2 separate regions of the Homo sapiens genome follow, and region 1 is linked to region 2. A link means that fine-mapping ties the variant in region 2 to the expression of a gene that starts in the linked region. Tissue or cell type: whole blood. Region 2 holds a variant in brackets; the other region holds the start of a gene. All regions are shown on one strand. Distances are between the middles of the regions. Region 1 holds the start of ATP11A (ATPase phospholipid transporting 11A). Region 2 overlaps ATP11A (ATPase phospholipid transporting 11A).

Evidence for each region.
Region 1: ATP11A starts here. The variant in region 2 is fine-mapped to the expression of ATP11A in whole blood (TOPMed, PIP above 0.99).

Annotation. Positions count from the first base shown.
Region 1 is chr13:112,685,701-112,694,496 of GRCh38, forward strand. ATP11A (ATPase phospholipid transporting 11A) reads left to right here and starts at 4,338. Exons shown (of 30, transcript NM_015205.3): 1 at 4,338-4,755. The coding sequence starts at 4,717. It overlaps LOC102725228 (a long non-coding RNA gene), which reads right to left and starts at 4,115. Exons shown (of 2, transcript NR_187633.1): 1 at 3,963-4,115; 2 at 1,069-3,169. RefSeq lists enhancers at 3,175-3,692, 5,991-6,492 and silencers at 3,941-4,870, 4,891-5,130.
Region 2 is chr13:112,792,860-112,801,655 of GRCh38, forward strand. All of the region lies in intron 2 of ATP11A (ATPase phospholipid transporting 11A), which reads left to right. LOC124903252 (a long non-coding RNA gene) reads left to right here. Exons shown (of 2, transcript XR_007063947.1): 2 at 1-2,828. Among named protein-coding and RNA genes, the nearest start is that of ATP11A-AS1, 43 kb to the left of the region's middle. The variant A/T (reference allele first, on the strand shown) is at 4,259.

The DNA.
Region 1 (8,796 bases), 110 kb before region 2:
AAGACCAGCCTGGGCAACATGGCGAAACCCCATCTCTACCAAAAATACAAAAATTAGCCAGGTGTGGTGGTGGGTGCCTGTAATCCCAGCTACTGGGGAGGCTGAGGCAGTAAAATCACTTGAACCTGGGGGTCAGAGGTTGTGATGAGCCTGGATCACACCATTGCACTCCAGCCTGGGAGACGGAGCAAGACCCTGTCTCAAAGGAAAAAAAAAAAAAAAAAAAAGAACTTTAGGACCAATCCCTGGGGAGATGGTCACCTAGGTAATTCTGGACCTGTGGGGATAGCGACTGAAGACACGTGTGCACAGCATGGGCCAGTAACTTGGAGGAGCAAGGCTGTTTGCCCTCGGAGGCCCAGCTTGAGTCACCACCCTCAGGTAATAGCTCTTTCTAGCACCAAAATGACACTCATTAATAATTCACACTTCCTGGTTCTGTGTCTACAGCAGTTGGCTCTGGCTTTGGGTTTGTCATTTCAGGTCTCGGTGCAACAATTCTTCTGAACTGTCTTTGCAGGAAGACCTCATTTTTTTGCCCCCACTCCCTTATTTCCCCCCAGTTTTTTTCACTTAGGGGCCAATGAATCCAAGATTTCTTTGGAAAGAAAGGTGGAGGGAGGAATGCAGGATAGGTGTTTATGAGTCTGTGTGTAGGTGAGGGTGTGGCCAGGGTGTCACCTGAAGCACCCATTTGCAAACCCACAATTTCAAGTCTTGGGGTTGGCCTCCTAGCTGTTGCCTCCTCCTCATTCATCCCATCCCTCCAGCACTGTGAAGCAGCTGTGCTCGCAGTGGGTCAGGGGTAGGTCCTGGTTATTTGAGGCGAAGACAATTTCATTCCCCTTGGACACTTACTAGTTTGGTGATGTGCACTGACCTCGGGCCTAAGCCAATCATCTCAGGGACTCTGCTACTTGCGTGACAGACTGGGCAGGAGTGGGCACGTGACTTAGCTGGCACGTCACTGTGAAGTCTCTCCTTCTGCTTAGATGTGAAGGAAGAAACTTGCAGGCCCTGGAGTTCTGGCAGTCGTTTCACTTTTGAATGCACTGGGAGGGGCACCAACACATTACATTATCATTTATTCAGTCTATGGTAGATTATTTCCAAAGATAATCCCCCATAAATTCTCTGTATGATAATCCCTCATAAGGATTAGGAGTTCTCATAATCCCTCATAAGGATCCCTGTCTGTACATGGGATCCTCCCATCAAGGAGTGAAATCTACGTTCTTATCCCTTGAATCTAGGCTGGCCTTGGAATTTATATTCACCAGTAGAACATGGTAGAAGTCATATTCTTGGACTTCCAAACCCGGGCCTTACAGGCTGTATAGCGTCCACATTGACCCTCCTGAGCTGCCATGTAAAAAACTCAGGCTAGACCACTGAATGATGAGAAGCCAGAGAGAGACAGCAAGGCCGGCCTGCCCCCAGTGTTCTATCACCCTAGCTGAGACCCCAGCTGTGTGACTAGACCACAGGAAGCTTCCAGCCCCAGCTGACCCCCAGAAGAATGCAGCTGCAGGACAATCCCAGCCAACAACAGGTGGAGCAGAAGCACCATCGCACCAATTCCGCAGGGTCCTGAGAAATGGTAACCCACTCACTGCCGTTTCAGCTCCTGCACTCGCGGTCACTCGTGACACAGCCAAAAATAACTGACTCACAGGGTGTCTTAGTCTGCTCAGGCTGCTGTAACAAAATCCTTTAGATGGCTATTCATACACACAGAAGTTTGCTTCCCACAGTTCTGAAGGCTGAGAAATCCAAGATCAAGGTCCCAGCAGATCTGGCATCTGAGAAAAGTTCTCTGCTTCATAGAAGGCCTCTTCTAAGCATCTTCATATGGCAGAAAGGGCAAGCAGGCTCCCAAAAACCTCAGTTTTAAAGGGCACTAATCCCATTCCTAACCACCTCCCAAGGCCCCCACCTCTTAATATTTGGGATTAGGTATCAGGTATTTGGGATTAGGTTTCCACGTGTGAATTTGGGAGGACACCTTCAGACCATAGCACAGGGTGAGTTGGACTTTGTTTTTTAATAGCCCTGATTTTTTTTTCTTAGATTTACCGTGAAGATGCTGACATGTGTTAGAAACAGAAAATCCAGCTCATGTGGTTTAAACGGAGACGTCTCTCATAGCAGGAAATTCCAGGTGAGGGCAGCAGGATTTTGGTGAATTGCCTGGTTGTGCCACCAAGGACTCCTGCTCTTCTCATCTTCCCAGGCGGCCACCCCAGGGTGAAGATGCTCTTCCGGCCACCTTCTCTTATAAGTGCAAAGGGCTGCGGAGCACCAGGCATTGCATCCAGACAGGGAATGCAACATTCACCAGGGAAAAAGGAGCATTTCCTCTTTATGTTCCTGTAGGAGTGAGAAAACCTTTGCCAGACAACCCCCAGCAGGCTTCCTGTTGGGACTCATTGACTTGAGCTTGTTTGAAGCCAATTGTTGGAAAGAGAAATGGAGTTACCAAGATTTTCTCAAGAGACAGAGTTTACCCTTAGCCACACAGAGTGGATACCTGAACCAGCAAGGATAGAGAGGGCATGGCTGCTGCATTGTCAACCAACAGTATTCACAACAGAATGAAAAACAATTCACATTTACTACTGAATAAAGCAGACACTCCTGACAGACAGGCAGCCTTGATCTAGTGCCTTATACAACCTCTGATTGCGCCTCGACCCCAATCCCACAGTCACGGTTTACAAGGTAGAAGCTTAGTCAAAATCCGGCTTCAGCAGTCAGGGTTCTTGCAGGAAACTGAAGGTGTTCTTGGGAGGGGATTTGGAAGCGAGTTTGATGAAGGACTCTTTGTTGCGGTGTGGTCATGGTTCAAGGATCCTTCAAAGGGTGCTGCTATTTAGGGACCAGCAACAATGGCAGACCGACAACATGTCTCACCCTAAGAGGCTTGGGGGCGGGGAGAAGTTCTGTTCGTAGAGCCTAGAGGAGTTGTGCAATGGAAAGGGCACCCAGGAAGAATCGTAGCCACAGAGTGAAACCAACACTGGTGGGTGTGGGGCCAGGCCAGGAAGGAGAGGGGAAGAGGCCCCTGCCTCCCTCCTACCCGGTCTGCAGCAGGTTGTCCCTGTGGGTGAAGATCCACTGAGGGGGACCGCCAGCTTCCTGAGCACAGGGCAGGCCAGAGCAGGACAGGCTGGGATGGAAAATGAAGAATCAGTGCTTTAGCCGACAACAAATGGGAGCCGTTTACTGTTTAGTCACTATGATTAGTGTTCACTAGTACTCATTTCTCTTCGTCTAAAAAGTGGCCAACACCATCTCTTTTCCACAAGCACTCGGGAGAACATTCATATTCAATTGCCTTCCTAAGACCCAGACGGGGCAGCGCTCTCCACAGGCCACCAAAAGGTGTTGCCTGTTTGGTTTCATCAGTGATTATCTGTGGCAGCAAGACAGGAAGTTGGAAATCAAGTACCTCAATTAAGTCAAGGCTGACCGTGGAATTAGAGAACAAGTGTTTGTTACCCCGGCCAGGTCACCCTAGGGAAAACAGGCATTCTCCGGGATTGAAATGGTGGTGTTTGTGTGGTAAATAGTTCTCAGTCCAGTTCAAAGCCAGCAGCATTAAGGACACGCCACCGCCACCGGGAGCTGGAGACCAGGCGAAGCTGAGCTCCTCTGTGGTTCACCAACCCCTCAGGCCGCCTAAGTGTCTTCTGCTGTCGCAGCTTTGGGGACAGAGGGGTTTCGGAAACAGGGGCCTCTTGTCTGCACCCTCCCCTCCCACTGACAGGCTGGCAGCCCAGGGCAGCCACCTGAGGAGCGTCCCTGTGTCTCTCCATCTGCAGAGCAGGAAAAGCCTGCGGGTCGGTGGCGCCACGCTGGGGCGAGACCCAGCTTCGGCTCAGGAGATCTCCCACCCAGCCGGACTCCCGCTCTCTGCCCGCGGCCCCCTCCCACACTCCCACCTCGCCCCGCGATCTCACTGCCCCATCGAGGCTTCCGGGCGGAGGAGAAAAGTTTTCCGGCAGGAACCCGGGAAGGAAGCCCTGGGACCCTGGCTGAAACTCCGGGTTTCCCCAGTGCCGAGTCCCTTCCCCGCCGCGCCCAGCGCCTGCGCCCCGGGAGGCGGAAGCAACAGGGGGGTTCCTCCCCGCGGCCTCTGACCTCTGCCCTCTGCCCTCTGCCCCCAGGGTCTGGGGCCCGGGCGGAGGCGCGAGGGGGCAGGGCCGGCGCGCGGGTGCGAGCGCGGGTGTGGGCGCGGGGCCGGCGGGGGCTGCGGCCGCGGGGCGCATGCTCACTTGCGCCGGTGACGTGCGCGCCCGGAGCAGGGGCAGGAGCCAGCGGGGCCCGGAGGCTCCAGAGGGCGGCGGGCAGGGGAGGAGGAGACTCGGGAGGAGCAGAGCGCAGGCTCCGCCGCGGCCGGGGTGCTCCAGCCGAGCCCAACCGAGCGGGCGGACCGACGGGGAGAGAGAAGGCGCCAGAGCGCGCGCGCGCGGCCCCGAGCAGCAGCCTTGCCGCCAGTGGAGCAGCTGCCGACGCGCGGGGCCGCGGACCCAGCATTCGCCGGCCGGGCCGGGCATGAGCGCGGAGGGGCCGCGGCCGCCCCCTGCACCGCCCGGCGCGCCGAGGCCGTGACCGGAGCGGGGGGCGCGGCCGCACTAGTACCCCGGAGCCCATGGGCGCGCCGAGCCGGGCGCGGGGGCGCTGAACGGCGGAGCGGGAGCGGCCGGAGGAGCCATGGACTGCAGCCTCGTGCGGACGCTCGTGCACAGATACGTGAGTGCTCCCGGCGCGGGCTGGGGGACCCGGGGACCAGACAGACGCGGGCCGGCCCCGCAGCCCGGACCCTGTGGCCGGTCCAGCCCCGGGGTCCCGGGAGGTCTCCGATGTCTGGGACTCGGACCGCCCCCGGGGACGAGCGGGATGCTGGGGAGGGGCCTCGGAGTTGACACCCTGGGGCTTCCGACGGGGTCTAGGTGGGCACAGCGCGGGGCCCCAGCCCCGGGCGGCCACCTGCTCCCTGGCCGCGGCCGCCTGGCGCCCCCTTCCCGCCCGCAGCGCCCTGGGGGTCCCTCGGAGAGGCTGGCTGGGGTTCGAGCTGTCCCGGCGGACCGGGCGCCCGGAGGGAGCCAACTTCGACCCCGCCGGGGCCCGGGTCTGGGGAGGAACCTTCAGATGCGGCTTCCGCGCAGCCGTGTCTGTAAGATTAAGGGATTGGGAGGAAGCGTTACACTTCTGCAGAAAAAGGTAGCAATTGTGTTTGTTCTTTAACACCCCTGGGGGATTCAGAAGCGGAGTTTGGAATCTTTTTATTTTTTACCTTAAAGTAACCAATTAGATCAGAAGTCCGGGGTCTTCTTGGGTTCCTCTGGAATTTGCCCCTTCAGTGATAAGCAAGTGAAGAGCTCAGGAGGGAAGACTCGGAAGGGGAAAAGTTGATTTTGTTTTACACCAGAGGAGGGGAAACCGGAATCCCTGGCGTTAGGTGTAAAAAGGGGTGTGTGGCCGGGCGCGGTGGCTCACGCCTGTAATCCCAGCACTTTTGGAGGCCGAGGCGGGCGGATCACGAGGTCAGGAGTTTGAGACCAGCCGGACCGACATGGTGAAACCCCGTCTCTGCTAAAAAATACGAAAATTAGCCGGGCGTGGTGGTAGGCGCCTGGGATCCCAGCTACTCAGGAGGCTGAGGCAGGAGAATCGCTTGAACCCGGGAGGCGGTGGTTGCAATGAGCCGAGATCGAGCCACTGCACTCCAACCTGGGTGACAGAGCGAGACTCTGTATCAAAAAAAAAAAAAAAAAAGGGTGTGTGTGTGTGTGTGTGTGTGTAGGAGAGGAAGAAAACTGTCCCAAGCACAGCGTTTCCTGCCACTGTCTTGCACAAGAGGCTTCATTGTTCCATAGAGGCTGGCGGTCACTGGTCAATCACAGGTTCGAGAAGTCGCATGCACCGGGTTTGATACTAGAGAGGGCAGTATTATGGGAACTTTGTTCTTTCCCGGCATAGGAATTACCTCAGGCAGCCTTTCATATTTATGAGCCTTCTTTAAATAGGAGACCTTGGCCAAAGATAGATAGGTTTCTTTTCAGTGGGGGATGCCAGATCAATGCTTTCCCCCGGATTTATTTATTAACCAAAAACCTCGGAGAGTCAAGGAGACTTGAGTGCACCTTACATCGTTTCCTGATCTCGGGGAAGCCTTAGGAAGGTCAGCCTGACTTACTTAAGTGGAGAGAACTCACCCCTGGTGATTCTGATGATTCCGATGCTAGATCTTGAAAGGCTTGGCTCCAGGAGCCTTGTGTTACTCCCTCACTGGTGCTCGAGCCCCCAGTTCAAATCCTAATGTGAGTGGTAAACCTGTGTTTCACTGTGGTAACGTTATAGAAGACCCAATCACAGTGACTATAGGTAACCTGCAGTGTAAGAGAAATGCTTTATTGGGCGGAAGCTTCTGTTCTCAGTTGTGTCGCTCAGAAGTGTGGGTCCCTAGACACCTTATTTTCCTGCTTTGTTTCCTTCGAGCGAAATGGAAGAGGGAAGGGACTAACACTCACTTTGCCCGCGGTGTTCCCAGTTCATTCCGTTCCCTTCTAACACTCAGTGTTAAAAAGGAGGGTCACGTTGTGGGGCTAATGTGCAGCCTCTTTCCATAGAAATGAGAGATGGATGGGCCAGCCCGGCTCACCCTTTGGAGAATCCCCCCTTCCCAGCCGGTTTCTGACCCCTTCATCTTGGGAGGGGGACAGACAGACGTCCAATTTTGATGCTTGACTCCCTTTCTCCAGGCCTTCAGCTGTTTTCTGTTATATAGATCTATATAAGTGTTTGCGTAGCTTGCATTTTTAATTCCCCTTTGCTGTATTATTACGCTTATGGCATCACATTTTCTTTTAATCTAAGCGGTAAATATTCTTTAGTGAACTTTTCCAGCATATACATTATTGGATAACGTCTCGGGAATACGAGTTGTGGGATAATATTATTTCTGTTTTTCTCATTCCACCTGTGTTTTTTGCAGTGTATTCATCTGGCTACCTCACCCATATTTACACACAGAGCCATTCATCTCTATCATTTTAAGTTCATGTCTATGGTATTAAACTAATTTGACTTTTTCCAGAAACAGTCATGATCTGTTTTCTTGTAATTGCGTTATCGTCCACTATGTAGGACTAAATTATATTTCCTTTTGCTACAGAAAAAAGAGTCTGGGATTGAATACTCATATTTCCTCATGGTTTCCTTATGTGACTTACTTTATTAAAAAGGATAGATAAATAGACCCTGTTCCTTCTTGGTGTTCACATAGTCAGAATTCCTGGGACAAAGAAAGCTTTCCAGCTCCTTCTGATGTGTGAGGGTGGCTAAAAGATAAAGAAGTCCTTGGAAAACATTGCTGTAGGCATTTTATTGTGGATTAACCCTGGAGAGATAGCAGAGGCAAATGAGTGAGAGAACAGATGAAGGTTAGGCCAGGGTAGCCAGGTACTCCACACTGTGTGTTACTGGTGGTTTGGGTGTTTGGATGGACCGGAGCCATGCAGAGATACTTTGTATTTGTAAATGGTGCCGTGTTTGTATACCATGAGGAGTGCTTGTGCTTATGGGGTAGTGTATGCTCCCTGGGGTGATGTATGTGCTCTGGGGGGCGTGGGGAAAAGCGTGTGTGCCGTGGGGTAGTGTATGTGCTGTGGGGTAGTGTATGCTCCCTAGGGTGATGTATGTGCTGTCGGGGGCGTGAGGTGGTGTATGCTCTCTGGGGTGATGTATGAGCTGTGGGTACGGGGAGAGGGGACGGGGTGGAGAGTGTGTGTGCCGTGGGGTGGTGTATGTGCTGTGGGAGCCATGGGGTAGCGTGTGTGCCGTGGACTGGCGTATGTGTTGTGGAGTAGTGTATGTGCTATGGGGTAGCATATGAGCCATGGGGTAGTGCATGTGCCATGAGGTAGTTTGACCTCCATGACGTAACACTTTAAAAGCACTTCTAGGCCAGGCGCGGTGGCTCATGCCTGTAATCCCAGCACTTTGGGAGGCCGAGGTGGGTGGATCGCCTGACATCAGGAGTTCAAGACCAACCTGGCCAACATGGTGAAACCCTGTCTCTACTAAAAATACAAAAATTAGCCGGGCATGGTGGCGGGTGCCTGTAATCCCAGCTACTCAGAAGGCTGAGGCAGGAGAATTGCTTGAGCACAGAAGGCGGAGGTTGCAGTGAGCTGAGATCGCACCATTGCACTCCAGCCTGGGCAACAAGAGCGAAACTCGTCTCAAAATAAATAAGAGTATTTTTAACAGCATGGATGGAGAGCGAGTTCCATTTCCTCTTCAGAGCTGTAAGGTGAGCAACACCGATTCAGGTAGTTTAAGTTCCGAGAGGAACCAGGGCAGCCTCAGCGGGTAGCTTAGATACTTTTCTTAGATACTCTCTGGGCAGTGGCCTGAATGCTGAGTGGGAGCCTCCCTGCCCTTCTTAGCCATGTGGCCTTGGGCAAGTGGCTTAATTCCTTCTGCCTCAGTTTTCTCCTCTGAGGGTAAGAGCAGTACTCATTTCATAGCTATTGTGAGGGTTGAATGAGGTAATCTGGGTGGAGAGCCAAGAATGGGGAAGCTCTCAGTCCGTTTGTCATGCCTGGCTGTTAACATAGCTGAGTCCCTGGGTAGGGTTGGCTGGGGAGAGAGCAAACCTATGGGCTGCCAGTGCTGCTGCTCAGCTACCTGTGGGTCCCGGCCTGCTGGCGTCGTGGGTCACAGGAGAGGTAAACCGGGCACCCTGACACTGAGCATGGTGTGGAGCTCAGGTAGGATTCAGAAAGC
Region 2 (8,796 bases):
TGCCCACAGGAGGCTACAGAATTAAATGTTGGCTTAGACTATACTGTCCCTCCATGCCTTCAAGAAAGTTGAATCCTTCTGGTAATTGGGGAGAAAAAATTCCCTCTGCAATTCGTAGGTATAGCCAGTGTTTTCATGACTTCTATTTGTATAAATGATTTCCATGTTTATTATATCATGTAATCTCTAAAACAACCCTGTGAGCCCACCAATACTGATTATTACCAATGTATCCATGAGGAAGCTGAGGCTTAGAGCTCAGTCATGTGCCTGAGGCCACAGAAGAGGATAGAGCCCCTGTAGTCTGGCACTGGGCTTGGACTTCCTTCCGCAGAGCCAGGGGCCCTTTCTTTTCATTTTTGAGACAGAGTCTCTCTCTGTGCCCAGGCTGGAGTGCAATGGTGCGATCCTGGCTCACTGCAACCTCCACCGCCCGGGTTTAAGTGATTCTCCTGCCTCAGCCTCCCAAGTAGCTGGAACTACAGGTGCCCACCACCACACCTAGTTAATTTTTATGTTTTTAGCAAAGATGGGGTTTTGCCATTGTTGGCCAGGCTGGTCTTGTACTCCTGACCTCAGGTGATTCACCCGCCTCGGCCTCCCAAAGTGCTGGGTTTACAGACGTGAGTCGCCGCGCCCATCCAGGGGCACGTTTCTTAACAGCCCCTCTGGGTGCTCACGAATTTCCGGCATCAGCAATCCACCATCCTGGCATAATTTTCTGTGTTTTGCATCCCTGCCTCCCGGTCATAAACAAAAGAGTGACCTCAGTTCCATGCGAGTGGCTGCTTGTCCCAAGCAGATGGGTGTCCGGCGTCCCCGCCTTTTTCAGGACTGTCAGGTGGGCCCTGTGGTGCTGGAGCTGTGTTCAGGTGAACACTAGTTGAGGCTTCAGACAGCTTGTAGGTGCTCCTGCGGGCGCCTGGGCTGCTGGCAGGGGACAGTGCCCGGGTTCGTCTCGCAGCCAGAGGCCAGAGGCAGGCCAGGTGAGGCCATGCTCTTCCCTGTCTGCACACCACACTGCTGGCAAGTAACACAAAACAGAGACTGGCTACCCCAAGGGGCAGGAGGCAGCGGAAACCTGAGGCTCAGACACTAGTGAGGCGTTCCAGCTCAGGGCCAAAATCAGAGCCAGGGCAGCTGTGGACTCTGGCTATGGCGTCTGTCGTACAAGTGAGAAACGAAAAGAATGACTGTCCCGTGTCATTCAGCAAAACACATGGTGTCTTTGGAGGTGAAGAGAGGTGCCAAGCACCACTCGGTTTTCCCAGATTTCCTGTAGGAGGAAAACCACTTGGTTCTATGCTGTGGCTTTCACGCCAGGAGCTCCTAGGATTGAGGACGTCTACTGATTGTATCACAGTCGAAGGGCCCAGTGTTACATTACATTGTGTCCCCAGGCAAATACTTACATTTTTACAATTCAACAACGATGAGCGAAGGATAACTGTCCACCATTGTCAGCCTTCCCACTCTAACGTGTGGAATAAAATGCTCATTTCAGTTGATTGTATCCCGATGGTACTGCTGTGTCAGTGCAGTCACGACCCTTTAAATGAGTTCCCTGGGATTTCACTTTTCTTGTTAGACATCACCAGGAATTAATAACCCTCCTTTTGACAATAGTAGTGGTCAGCAGTAATAACTTACTCTGTGAAACATAGAGATTACACAGCATCATGGGGCTTGGCTGCAGCCCTCAGTGCCTGATTAGAATAAAGCAATTGAGGCCAGGCGCAGTGGCTCACACCTGTAATCCCAGAACTTTGGGAGGCCGAAGCGGGCGGATCACGAGGTCAGGAGTTCTAGACAAGCCTGGCCAACATGGTGAAATCCTGTCTCTACCAAAAAATAAAAAATTAACTGCGTGTGGTGGCGGGCGCCTGTATTTCTAGCTACTCGGGAGGTTGAGGCAGGAAAATCGCTTGAACCCGGGAGGCAGAGGTTGCAGTGAGCCGAGATTGTGCCAACGCACTCCAGCCTGGGTGACAGACAGAGTAAGACCCTGTCTCAAGAAAAGAAAAGAAAAAAAGAATAAAGCAATCATGCAGGTGGTTTCAAATTCCAAAGCTGTACAGTAACATTCAAATATGGCAAGGCCCTGCCAGGTGCGGTGGCTCACGCCTGTAATTCCAGCACTTTGGGAGGCTGAGGCAGGTGGATCACCTGAAGTCAGGAGTTCAAGATCAGCCTGGGCAACATGGTGAAATCCCGTCTCTATTAAAAATACAAAAATTAGCCGGGCATCTTGGGGGGTTGCCTGTAATCCCAGCTACTCGGGAGGCTGAGGCACGAGAATCGCTTGAACCTGGGAGGCAGAGGTTGCAGTGAGCCGAGATGGCGCCACTGCACTCCAGCCTGGGCGACAGAGTGAGACTTCATCTCAAAATAAATAAATAAATAAGTTATGGCAAGTCCATGAGTTTGCACAGCCTTCCAGGCCTGATGGAAGTAGATCTGCATGTTTGGAAGGATTGCAGATCATATTTTATCTCATAAATATTACCAGAACTTCCTCGTGTAACATGGGAACTTTCAAAACCATAGAGAGGAGCATTGTAAATCTCTGTGGCTCGTCTCCACTGTCACAGTTCCCAGCTTGTGGCCAGCCTGTTGCATCTGCACCTTCACTGTAGTTCCAAGGGTCCTTTGGAAGGAATCCTGGACAGCGTGTACTTTTCATCTGAAAGTACTTCAGTAAATGAAAGGTGGAATTTTAAGTAGACTCTTTTTTCATTAATGTGACTTTGTTACTGAGTGATGTATTATAGAAATTTGTGGAAACGTATAATTGTAATAAATTTGTTGGCTTGGATGCTGGAAAGTAAGACTGGCCTCACATGGGTGAGCTAAGGTATTTCTTTAATGTATCCTTTTAAAAGCTAATGGAGAGTAACTGACTTTTTCATTGTGGCCCATTTGAGAGAAAATATATCTTTCTCAAATATTTAAAAAGGTCGATCACATGTGTAATGTTTGCCAAGTTGTATACACAAGAAAACTAGAACTCAGAATCATTAAATAATTTGCTGAAGTTTACATGGTTTTTAAATGGCAGGGTCAGGATCGAATATGGGGACTGACTCTGAAGTCTATGTGTTTCATAGTATGCTAAAGAGTAAATATTTCCAGAATTTCGATAGAGTACCTAAATTATCTTGAGGTGGGGTTAGCAAATTGTGAATTAAGATTGTGGTTTTTGTAAAGGAAGAAAGTGCCTATACTTTTATTGGCAATCTGGTGTTTTTGTTTGCTTTTTTTCTGAATGAGAAACAAAAGAAATGAAGAGCTAGCCATGTGTTCTCTACTCTGTCTCAGTTTGTATGGCTACTTTTCCATCCAGAGCTCTTGCCTTTTGGTTCTCAATTTGGTTGCATTCCCATGAAGAAAACCTAGTGTGGCAGGCAGAAGGATGGCCTCCCACAGATGTCCACATCCTGATCCCCAGAACCTCTGACTATGACACTGTCTGTGGCCAGGGAATCAAGATTGCCAAACAGCTGACATTAAAATAGGGAGGTGATTATAGAACTATTCATGTGGCCAAAAGTAACCACAGAGGCACTTGTAAGTGGAAGAGGGAGGCAGAACAGACTGTCCGAGCTACGACTGGCTTCAGAGGTTGAAGGGGACCAAAGGATGTAGGCAGCCTCTGCAGGAAGCAAGAAAAGGCAAGAAAAGTTTCTCCCTGGAGCCTCCAGGAAGGAACCAGCCCTGCTGATACTTTAATTTTAACCCAGTGAATCCCATTGCAAACTTCTGACCTCCAGAACAGTAAGGTAATAAATTTGCATTGTTTTAAGTCACAAAGTGGAATTTGTTATAGCAGCATAAGAAACTCATACACCTGTCCTAACTACTTTGGGGATTTATAATACAGACTGTACGGAGATTGACGCGGTGTCAAAGGACCCGTGACCTTGAGACATGCCCATAGAATCATACACCTGCCCTAGCCACATCGGGGATTTGTAATACAGGCTGCTCAGAGACTGACGTGGTGTGCAAAGGACCCGTGACCTTGAGACATGTCCATAGAAACTTTCCAAACTGAAGAGCAAAGAGGAAAAAAGAGTGAAGAAACAGAACAGAACTGTGGACAACTACAATAGGTGAAGCAGGCCAGGCACGGTGGTCACGCCTGTAATCCTGGCGCTTTGGGAGGCTAAGGTGGGCAGATCACCTGAGGTCAGGAGTTTGAGACAAGACTGGCCAACATGGTGAAACCCCGTCTGTACTGAAAATACAAAAAATAAAA[A/T]TTTTTTTTAAAAAAATTAGCCAGGTGTGGTGGCAGGTGCCTGTAATCCCAGCTACTTGGGAGGCTGAGGCACAAGAATCCCTTGAAGCTGGGAGGCAGAGGTTGCAGTGAGCCAAGATAGCACCACTGCACTCCACCCTGGGCAGCCAGAGTGAAAACTCCATCTCAAAAAAAAAAAAAAAAAAAAAGGTAAACCATATATGCATAATGAAAAAAACAAAAGAAGAGAGAAGAAATATCTCCAGTAAAAGTGGCTATTTCCAAAATTAATGGCAGATGCCAAACTACCGATCCAGGAAGCTCAGAGATAAATACAAAAGCAGAATAAATTTTTTAAAAAGGGTACACCTAGACATATCACATTTAAATTGCAGAAAATTAGACTCAGAAAAAATCTTGAAAGAAGCCACAGGAAAAGAACATTTTACCTGCTGAGAAACAAGGGTAAGAATTATATCAAACTTTCTTCCAGAAACCATCTAAGGAAGAAAAGAATAATGTAAAATATTTAAAGTGTTGAAAGAAAAAGCCAGCAACCCAGAATTCTGTATCTCATAAAATTATCCTTCATTCGTGAAGGAGAAATAAAGACTTTTTCAGGCAAACAAAAATTGAGCGAATTCATTGCCAGTAGACCTCCCTTGCAAGAAATGTTAAAAGTTCTTCAGAAAGAAGGAAAATTATATAGGTCAGAAATTCAGGTCTACTTAGGAAAGAAGAACACAGCACTAAAGTGTGAGTTTTTGTGCTGTTACAACAGAATACCACAGACTGGGTAATTTATAGAGAAGAGACATTGATTTCCCCACAGTTCTAGAGTCTGGGAAGTCCAAGATCAAGACACTGGCAGGTTTGGTGTCTGGTGAGGGCCCCATCTCTGCTTCCAAGATGGCTCCTTGAGCACTGCATCCTCTGGAGTGGGGGAAGGCTGTGTCCTTATGTGGCAGAAGGCAAAAGGGCAAAGGGGCAAACTCCCTCTGCCGAGCCCTTTTATACAGGCACCTAATCCCATTCATGAGGGAGGAGCCCGCATGGCGGAATCAGAACTCTTGAAGGCCCCGCCTCCTGGGACCGTGACTAGTTGTCACATTGGCAACACCTGAATTTTGGAGGGGACACATTCAAACCATAGCAAGAAGGAATAAGTGAAGGTAGTAAAATTAAATATTTTGCTTTTTTGTTGTTTTTTATTTCTTTTAGAGACGTGATCTCACCATGTTGCCCAGACGGGTTTAGAACTTCTGGGCTCAAGGGATCCACTGCCTCAGCCTCCTGAAGTGCTAGGATTACAGGGCACAGCACCCAGCTTGCTTTTCGTGTTCTTAATTGGTCTAACAGAGAGTACTTTATTCAGAATGATAATAGCATTTACTCAGTGGTGATTGCTCAGGGGTGAATGAAATGTATGACAGCAGTGCCCTGGGGGGCAAGAAGGAACTGGGCATGCTGTTGCGAGGAATCTGCGCCACACACACAGTGCGGGTTATGTGAGAGTGGGCGTATATTGTGGCCTCTAGTGCAACCACTAAGTAATTTTTTTAAAAAATAAGTATAGTTGATATTCTAAGACAGGAGAGAAAATAGTCACATCAAATGCTTAATTAAAACCCAAGATGGCAGGAAAAGAGTATAAGTCACAAAAGAAACAAAGACTATGAAGAAAGGAATAAAAGTCAGTTACAAATATGGTAAATATTAATCCAGCTATATTAATAATCACTTTAAGTGTGAATTGTCTAAATAAACCAAATACAGAAACTGTCAGAATAGAAAAAACAAGACCTAACCATATGTTGTGTGCAGGAAAGGCACTTTAAATATAAAAACACGGGTTTAAGAGATAGAGGAAGATGTACCATGCTGCTACTACTCAAAGGGACACAAGATTAGCTATATTAATTTCAGACAAAGCAGACTTCAGAACAAGAGAAGTTACCAGGGATAAAGAGGGGCATTGCCAAACAACAAAGAGGTCAGTTCTCCAAGACAACATAACAATTCTCAAAGTCTCTGTAACAACAGAGGGTCAAAATATGTGAGGCAAAAACGGATAGAACTGGAAAGAGAAAGAAAATCCACTGTTATATTTGGACACTTCATGACCTCTGTCCACAGGCAGAAAATCAGTAAGGACACGGTTGAACTGAACAGCACCATCAGTCCCTTGGATCTAATGGACCTTTATGTCTCACGCGTCCATGTGAAGAGAGTCCACCAATAGGCTTTGTGTGAGCAACAAGGCTGTTTATTCACTTGGATGCAAGTGGGCTGAGTCCGAGAAAGGAGTCAGCAAAGGGAGATGGAGGTGGGGCAGTTCTATAGGATTTGGGTATGTAGTGGAAAATTACAGTTAAAGGTGGTTATCCCTTGTGGGCAGGGGCGGGGGTCACAAGGTGCAGGGTGGGGAGGTCATGAGACTCATTGTCCAGGGGGGAATGTCACAAGGTTGATTGATTAGTTGGGGTGAGGCAGGAACAAATCACAAAGGTGGAATGTCATCTTTTGTGGTTCTTCAGTTGCTCCAGGCCATCTGGGTGTATATGTGCAGGTCACAGGCTTAGCTTGGGCTCAGAGGCCTCACAATTTATAAAATACTTCATTCAACAATAGCAGACCACACATTCTTCTCAAGTTCACATGGAACATTTGCCATGACAGATCACATTCTGGGCCATAAAATACACCTTAGCACCTTTTCAAAGAATAGAAATCATACCAAGTACTCTTTCAGACCACAGTAGAATTAAACTAGAAATAAATAAATAACAAAGTTAACTGGAAAATCCCAAAATATTTGGAGATTAAACAAAACACTACTAAATAACACATGAACCAAAGAAGTCTCAAGAGGCATAAAAATATTTTAAGCTAAACAAAAAATATAACTTATCAAATCTTGTGGGATGCAGGAAAAGCAGTGCTTAGAGGGAAATTTATAGTATTGACTACATAGATTAGAAAAGAAGAAAGATCCAAAATCTACAAGCTTCAACATTAGGAAACTTAACAAAAAATTAATAATCAACATTAGAACAGAAATTAATGAAATTGAAAACAGGAAATCAGAGAAAATTTTAAACATCAAAAGCTGGTTCTTTGAAAAAAAAAAATCAATAAAATCAATAAAACTTTAGCCAGGCTAAACAAGAGGAAAAGAAAAGAGACACAAATTCCAAACATCAGAAATAAAGGAGGGGCATCACTACTGGTAACATGGCTAATAAAAAGATTAAAAGGAATATCATGAACAGCCCTACACCCATAAACTTGGTAACTTAGATAACATTGGCCAGTTTCTTGAAAAACGCTATCTACCAAAACTCAAACAAGGAGAAATATAATCTGGGTGGGCCTACATCAATTAAAAGAAATGGAATCCGTAATTAATACTCTTCCAAAACGGAAAGCACAAGACTCAGATGTTTTCACTGGTGAATTCTACCAAACATTTAAGGAAAAAAAAAAAAATCAATTCTCTACAATCTCTTCCAGGTAATAGAAGCGGAAGGAACATTTTCTAATTCGTTCTATGAGGCCAGCATTACCCTAAAACCAAAACCAGAAAAAGATATTACCAGAAAGACGATATCACACACCAGTATTTCTCATGAACATAGAAGCAACGATTCTCAATAAAATATTAGCAAGTCCAATTCAACAATGTATAAAAAGAATTATACACCATGACCAAGTGGGTTTATCCTAGGTATGCAAGGCTGATCCAACATTTGAAAATCGACTAATATAACCCATATTTACAGGCTAAAAAAGAAAACTTACATGATTATATCAATAGGTGCAGAAAAAGAATTTGACAAAATTCACTACCCACTCATGTACTGCAGCAAACTAAAAACAGAGGGGAATTTCCTGAGCTTCATAAAGAGCATCTCCGAAAAGCCCTACAGCTGACGTCATACTTAATGGTGAAAAACGAGATGGTTTCACCCTAAGATTGGAAAAAAGGCAAGAAATCCCTTATCACTGTTCTTATTCAGCATTGTACTGGAAATCCTAGCTAATACAGTAAGAGTAGAAATGGGAATAAAAGGCCTACAGCTGACGTCATACTTAATGGTGAAAAACGAGATGATTTCACCCTAAGATTGGAAAAAAGGCAAGAAATCCCTTATCACTGTTCTTATTCAGCATTGTACTGGAAATCCTAGCTAATACAGTAAGAGTAGAAATGGGAATAAAAGGCCTACAGCTGACGTCATACTTAATGGTGAAAAACGAGATGATTTCACCCTAAGATTGGAAAAAAGGCAAGAAATCCCTTATCACTGTTCTTATGCAGCATTGTACTGGAAATCCTAGCTAATACAGTAAGAGTAGAAATGGGAATAAAAGTCCTACAGATTGGGAAGGAAGGAATAAGACTATCTTTGTTCACAAGTGATATGATTGTCCATGCAGAAAATCCCAAAGAACCAACAATAACAAAAAAACTTCTGGATGTTAGAGGCGATTATAGCATGGTTGCAGGATGCAAAAATTAATCGCTATCCTATATGCCAGCAATGAACAGTTGGAAT